2 linked regions of the Homo sapiens genome follow. The protein of the gene in region 1 purifies or fractionates together with the protein of each later gene. This does not show direct contact. Each region holds a gene or a part of one and is shown on either strand. Other genes may lie near its edges.

Region 1 (3,500 bases):
CCATTGGTGACTAAAAATCACATTATTCACTATCGGTAAGACAAATTTTGAACTGTTCACCTAACACAGGCTTTTTCTGAAATGAAAGTGTCGTTGAACTTTCCTTGCCTTCTTTACCTTCACTCTCCTGAGTCTCTTATAACAGTGACCAGCTTCCCTGTTTTGTTTTTGATTTTTGGTCTCTCATATGAGTTAATTCCCTGTTAAATAATCTGTCTTAAACATGCTTATTACTTTTTCCCCTTTTCTCCCCCTTTCAGCTGTTTTTTATGTATTCACTTCTTTAACCAAGAAACATTTATTGAATGCCATGTATGGTTCTAGGCATGGAAACTTGTGCCTAGTTGGCACAAAACAGATAAAAATCCTTTCCTTCTTGGAGATTACATGTTAGTGATGGGAGACCAAAAGAAAAAAAAAAAGTAAAAACTGAGTAAAGACGTACATAGTGTGTTAGAAAATAGTAAGTGCAGTGAAGGAAAATAAAACAAGGAAAATGTGTGCCATGGTGGGGATAGGGGATGTTACACTATGTATTAATTTCGTATGGCTGCTGTAATATTCCCACAAACTTGGTGGCTTAAAACAATGTAAGTTTATTTTATTAGACTTCTGGAGGCCAGAAGTTGGAAATCAACATCAGGGACCCAAATCAAGATGGTGTTGTCAGGGCTGTGCTTCCTTTGGAGGATATTGGGTAGAATCTGTTCTTGCCTCTTTCAGCTTCTGGTGGCTTTTGGCATTTATTGGCTTGTGGTCTCATCACTGCAATTTCTGCCTTTGTGGTTACATTACCTTTTCCTTTTCTGTGTGTAATATCCCTCTGCCTCTCTCTTATAAGGACACTTATAATTGCAGTTAGGGACTATATGGATAATTCAGGAAAATCTCCCCATGTCAGCATCCTTAACTTGATCATATATGTGAAGTCTTTGCTGTATAAAGTAACACTCACAGTTTCTAGAAATTAATACATGTATATCTTTTGTGGTATTTTTCAGCCTATCATAATGCAAATTATCAGTAGTTAATCAATAAGAAGGTGTTATTTGAGCAAAGATTTGAAAAGTGGTGAAGAAACAAGTGATGCAGATACCCTGGGCCATCCAGCAAGATACCCTGAGGCAGTAACATATCACGTCTTGTGTTGAAAAGCAAAATGTATTATTTTCTCCCTCTTTATTCCATTTATTGGCCAGAAAAACACCCTGAAAAGACAAAGCCTTATTTACATATGTGGGTATATTTACAGAGCATGATTTCTGGCTCAAAAAGCTCAGTTTACTAGAAAATAACTAAATGTCATTGAATGTTCTAGGTACTATATTTATTAACATTTTGTTCTTAAAAACTTCTATTAAATAATTATATACATTACAAATGTGTAGAAAAAAAGGACTTTTCCAGAACAACAAAACCCTTGCCTCTTCCCCTTCAATTTACTACTTGTAAAGTTAATCTCTATTTGGACTTCTTTTTGCCTGTTTTTGAATTTTATATAAATGAAATCATTAGTATGTACTGTCTTATACATACTGTACTCTGGCTTGTGCTTAATACTGTGGTTAAGAGAATCACCTATATTGTTGCATACAGTTTATTCATTTTCATTGCTGTGAAGTATTATATCCAAATATTATAATTAATTGATCCATTCTATTACAGATGATCATTTGGGTTATTTCTAGTTTGGGGCTATAATTTGTGCTGCTGTGAATATTCTCAAACATGTTTTTTAAAAAATATATTATGCATTTCTGTTTGGCATTATGCCTAGAAGTGTAATTTCTGGGTCATAGAGTAGCATTTATTTCTAATTCTAATGCTCTCAGAGGAAATACAGGAAATATTAAGAAAGCAAAGTCATATTTTAAAATCTGTTTTAGGAAGACTGAATTTGACATTGTATTTCTGTCCCTTGATCAGCATGTCAATAAACATTTAGCACTTTTCAATATTAAGACAGAAAAGCAATGAAATAGCAGAGGTGAAATGAATTTTCACCAAATATTTAGTAAAAAGAGTATGATGAAAGAAAAGTTGTATTTTTAAGTGTTTTTATATAGGAATTTTAAAATATATAGGATATTGAAACATTCAGTTAGTATGCTTCTTTAATTTTTTTTCTCCCTGAAATTATAGGAACCAGATGTTAAAAAATTAGAAGACCAACTTCAAGGCGGTCAATTAGAAGAGGTGATTCTTCAGGTAAAGAAAAAGTTGACTATTTAGGTGTTTGGTTTCATAGAGACACACAACTGACGTTCTAGAATGAAAGGAAAACTAAATTTCCTTGTTTATATCAACTCGTCAAATATGTAAGACTAATCACATATAGAAAATGTGGTGCTTCTCATGTGTATGTTGATTATAGTATTTATTGTTGATTATAGCATGAATTTATGAGACTTCTGTTAGAAGCCTGGAGTTTGACACTCTTTTAATTTAATTAGCATGTTCTCCTTGGCCTAACCTTAGTTTAAATTGGTAGCACAATATTACTGTTGTTTTAATAGTTGTATCTTATTTTAAGAGTGTGGCATATTTTTAGTAGGGAAAAATACAGACATTTTGAATTATAAAATTAAAATGTACTTTTATTTTTATTTTTGGTTCTTGAGCATTTGAGCAAGTTAAAAAACAATTGCATAGTATATTTGAGAGCTTAATTCTACATTATTTCCCAAATACTAACCCTGACAAATAATATTGAGTAGTAAAATGTAAGCATGATTATGAAGAGACTGAGATTAGAAAAATTATTAACATTATTAATTACATTTAGAATATTTAAATCTTAAATTATTCTATTGGGAAATTTTCTTCTCCTCTCACTATACCTGCTGCTTATACAAGAGAACAAACACCGCAGTTTAGTTTTATTTAATCTGAATTTTAATTCTTTTCCTTTGGTCATAGTTAGGTTATAGAAATAGATAGGTTACTGATGTAAATAGGCTGGAAATATACTATTTTGAGTATTCCGTAGTTGGTTTTTTAAAGCATCTATGGGAAAATAATGATAACTCTTTTTTTTTTTTTTTTTTTTTTTTTAAGATTTGCATCTTTTTTCTCCAATTGCTAGTAAGGTTAAACTTTAAAAATATGTTCTTATATTTTATAAATTATGTCATTAATATTTTTACTGGGTCATTTAGTCTGGGTTATTTATACATGAGTGTCTTTTTATAATAAAAGATATTAACCTTAAACTTTTCTGACATTGTCTGCACATACTTTTTCTAGCCTGCTTTTGCCTCTCAAATGGGGTTTTTCCCCCATATGTAGAGGTTTTCAATTTTTTTTTTTTTTTTTTTTTTGAGATGGAGTTTTGCTCTTGTTGCCCAGGCTGGAGTGCAGTGGCATGATCTCGGCTCACCACAACCTCCGCCTCCCGGGTTCAAGCAATTCTCCTGCCTCAGCCTCCTAAGTAGCTAGGATTACAGGCATGTGCCACCACATCCAGCTAATTTTGTATTTTTAGTAGAGACAGGGTTTCT
Region 2 (3,500 bases), on another chromosome or scaffold:
ATAATTGGTATCTTCAGTGTGAGAAAGCAGAGAGAGAAGACAAGAAGAGTATTAAAATTATGAACAACCTTCATAAGATAATATTAACTAAATTATGTATCAGGCAATGGAACACCCTTTGAAACATGAACAGGCTCAGTTAAAGGGAAATAAAAAAGTATACTGCAGATAATAATATTATATTATTACATATAATTTAATGTATGTATATTATTACATATAATTTAAAGTAATATGTTACTCCCTCTCCTCAAGAAGTAGTACAGACATGAACTGTAAATGGGTCTGAAATGGTTTGGATATTGTGTATATCAGGGCTACCAACACTGGAATGCATACAGCCTGAAACCAAAAATAAAAATTGCACCCTCTTTGGCATATTTTGAGGCCCTCTCTAGGCAATAAATTCATTACAACATGTACCCATCCTGTGAGTACTGATAAATTACTTGGCTTATACTACAGATGTGGTAGTCACTTAAAAATACTGTACCTTATGACCACCTACAGATAAAAACTGATTAAGTCCAATACACCAAAAATAATTAAACAAATCAGCTATTCTTCTGATTGTTTCAGCTCACATAAAAGGGGTGACTACCACTAAACACACACACACACACACACACACACACACACACTCACAGAACGGGTTGAATTCTGAAGGCCAGCCATGTGGCCAGTATGAAAACGGGCCCCAATAAGAACTCTGCACACCAAAGGCTCAGGTGAGCTTCCCTGGTTGGTCTGCAATATTCCATGCCTAGTGCCACATAACAGTGCCAGGAAAGTAAGACATGGAGACTCCACAGGGAGAGGACAACAGAAGCTCTGCCCTATGTGCTTCTTTACTTGACTGATTTTCATCCGCATCTTTTCCCCGTAATAAACCATAACCAGGGGTAATAAGCTTTCAGTGAGTTATGTGAGTCTTTCTAGAGAAGTATCAAACCTGAAGGTTGACTTTGGAAACTCCTCAAATTTGCAGAAACTAAATTCCAGAGAAATCCATTTTATTTTAAATAAATAAACTTCACAATAAAATAGGACAAAGGAAAAAATAAATGCTTATTCAAGTTCTCTAAAAGTCAAGTTACTACTGTTCCTAAAGAAAAACACACACCAATCCCCTCTCCTTTTTCTTTAAAGCATTAGCTTTGCCCCTAAATAAATTTTGAGATTTGGGTACATTCTGAAGGAATGCTGGCTTAAAACAGTGTCAGAATCTTTTTGTACAGAAATCTACAGACAAATATAAAAAGTGTTGACCATAAGTATAACAAAGTTTTAAAAATATTTTGTAAACAACTACTATGTTCCAATAGGTTATTCCAGTGTACCAGACATTATCACATACCTGATATTGCTTGATTCTTAAACCATTCTTATTAGATATTCTTATCCCCATCCCAGAATGAAGGAAAATGAGACCTCAGAGGTTTCATGCAGCATGAGAACCAGGAGCACTGGAGGCAAAGATACTGCATTCCCCCTCTCATTTGTTGTAAAGGAAAAGTCAATTCTCTGGGCCTCAGATTCCCCCTGGAAAAATGATAAAATACCTACTTCACTGGGCTGCTGCAAGGATTAACTGGGTTACCACAGTGAGCAAATACATATTAATTCTTTTCCATTCCCTCTTTCCACTCTGGCCAGCCCAATGCTACACTGCTAGTAAATAGCAAAGTCAGTCTATAAAGCCAGATCTTTTTCTGCTAACCTCAGCTTTAGAATAATTTTCAAAATTACATTGCTGCTCTAAGATTCTAGATTTCAAAAATACTTTACTTTTGATAAAGTATATTAAAAAGAAGGAAACTATAAATCAGGAGAATCCTACAACAATAGCTAGAGATATTTTTTGAATTAAATGTTTGAATAGTCATAGAATGCCAAAGATTAAAAGTTCATTACACACATGTACTAACAATTTAAGGTTTGGTACACTGCCATACTTACATGGACTGAATTTAGAGTTAACAGCAACAAAATAGATTTATTTTTTAGGGTATAAAAGATTATTACTGAGAAATTTTAAAACTTCTTTTTCAAAGCACCACATTTCTCATTGTTTTAGAATATTTAGGGCAAACCTGGACACACGATAATAAAGCTCACCTGCATCATGATTTTCAGACGGTCCAAAGGGGCAGTGCTTGTTCGAGAGACAGCACCAGCAATGCCTCCTGCCAAAAGCTGCCTCCACCATTGTCCGGATTTTTTTTCGTCTTCCGTGAATTCATCTGGAATAGTTAAGCTATCCCCTATGTCAATTCCCTGTAAAAATGAAAAAAAGATCCCCATGCGCCTTAGTTAAAAATAATCCCAGAAGACGTTTTGTTTTAGAGAAGAATCATGTTATTTTACAGTTAATATGAACTTCATTCCCTAGAATTTATACTAAACCAATTTGAGTACATAGATTATAAGTTGTCTACTCACAATGAACAAAGTACAGTATCAGTTCACAAGAAATGAAAATAAACAGTAATTACAAATATACAAAACCAACAGTTACAACTTTCTTTCATTCATCATAGATTCACAGTATGTTTTCTCTTGGTCTAGGTTAAAATGAAAGGGCAGCATTTTATCATAGTCAATCTTTTTTATTGCAACCATTTTTCATAAGGCTAGAAAACCAACTGGTGATGACATCTTTTAAGAAATTCGTTCATCAATTCTTAAACAATACTTCCTTTATCTCAAATTTATATCCACATCATATTTATACCATGATATGTTTTAAATATGTAAATAAAAATTAAAACTGTATGTGAATACCCCTAAACTCATTTCCTACTGTTTATAAAAATATTTTTATAAATCTGACTTATCATTTAAAACATGCAATAGATTCTATATAAAATTTAGCTAATGGAGAGGTATTGTTTCAAATCATCACCCCTTCAACCTATTCTACATTACTATAGTTTGAGAGAAACAATTCTATAATAATATTTTTACAATTCTATTATCTAAATTGTTTTGGCAGAAAAATTTTTACAGGCAAGAGTGCAACGGGGAGGAGCTCTCCTATGGTAGTAACCCTCCCTTCCTTCATTTTACTATCAATAAAATGGAGATACAATTGTAGTCTCAACTGTTATCAACTACCTTAAAAAATACCGTAAGAATTATGTAAATAAAACTTCACATAGTGTACAATTTATCTAGGCAACTGAACTACTAGTATAATATTATCTTATACTCATAGCTGAGAAGGCACTAATCACCAACAATTTTATAATGCTTTATGTAAGCTTAGGCATTGTTACTAGTGGCAATGTGAACTCCTGACTTCATTTAATGCATATTTAATTTAGTCAAATCTGAAGTGTAGAAGACAAGCCCATAAAGAAAAAAAAAAAAAAAAAGGCCGGGCACAGTGGCTCACGCCTGTAATCCCAGCACTTTGGGAGGCGAGGCGGGCGGATTACAAGGTCAGGAGATCGAGACCATCCTGGCTAACACGGTGAAACCCCGTCTCTACTAAAAAT

Evidence for each region. The genes of interacting proteins can lie anywhere in the genome.
Region 2: the proteins of NDUFA5 (region 1) and SLC25A24 fractionate together in Homo sapiens (co-fractionation; one large-scale study listed by BioGRID). This does not show direct contact.

Annotation. Positions count from the first base shown.
Region 1 is NC_000007.14:123,544,319-123,547,818, reverse strand, and holds part of NDUFA5 (NADH dehydrogenase [ubiquinone] 1 alpha subcomplex subunit 5), read left to right. Parts: intron 1-1,001; exon of another isoform or gene 1,002-1,161; intron 1,162-2,142; coding exon 2,143-2,208; intron 2,209-3,500. UniProt on the Homo sapiens protein: Accessory subunit of the mitochondrial membrane respiratory chain NADH dehydrogenase (Complex I), that is believed not to be involved in catalysis. Complex I functions in the transfer of electrons from NADH to the respiratory chain.
Region 2 is NC_000001.11:108,155,344-108,158,843, forward strand, and holds part of SLC25A24 (mitochondrial adenyl nucleotide antiporter SLC25A24), read right to left. Parts: intron 2,278-3,500; coding exon 2,119-2,277; intron 1-2,118. UniProt on the Homo sapiens protein: Electroneutral antiporter that mediates the transport of adenyl nucleotides through the inner mitochondrial membrane. Originally identified as an ATP-magnesium/inorganic phosphate antiporter, it also acts as a broad specificity adenyl nucleotide antiporter.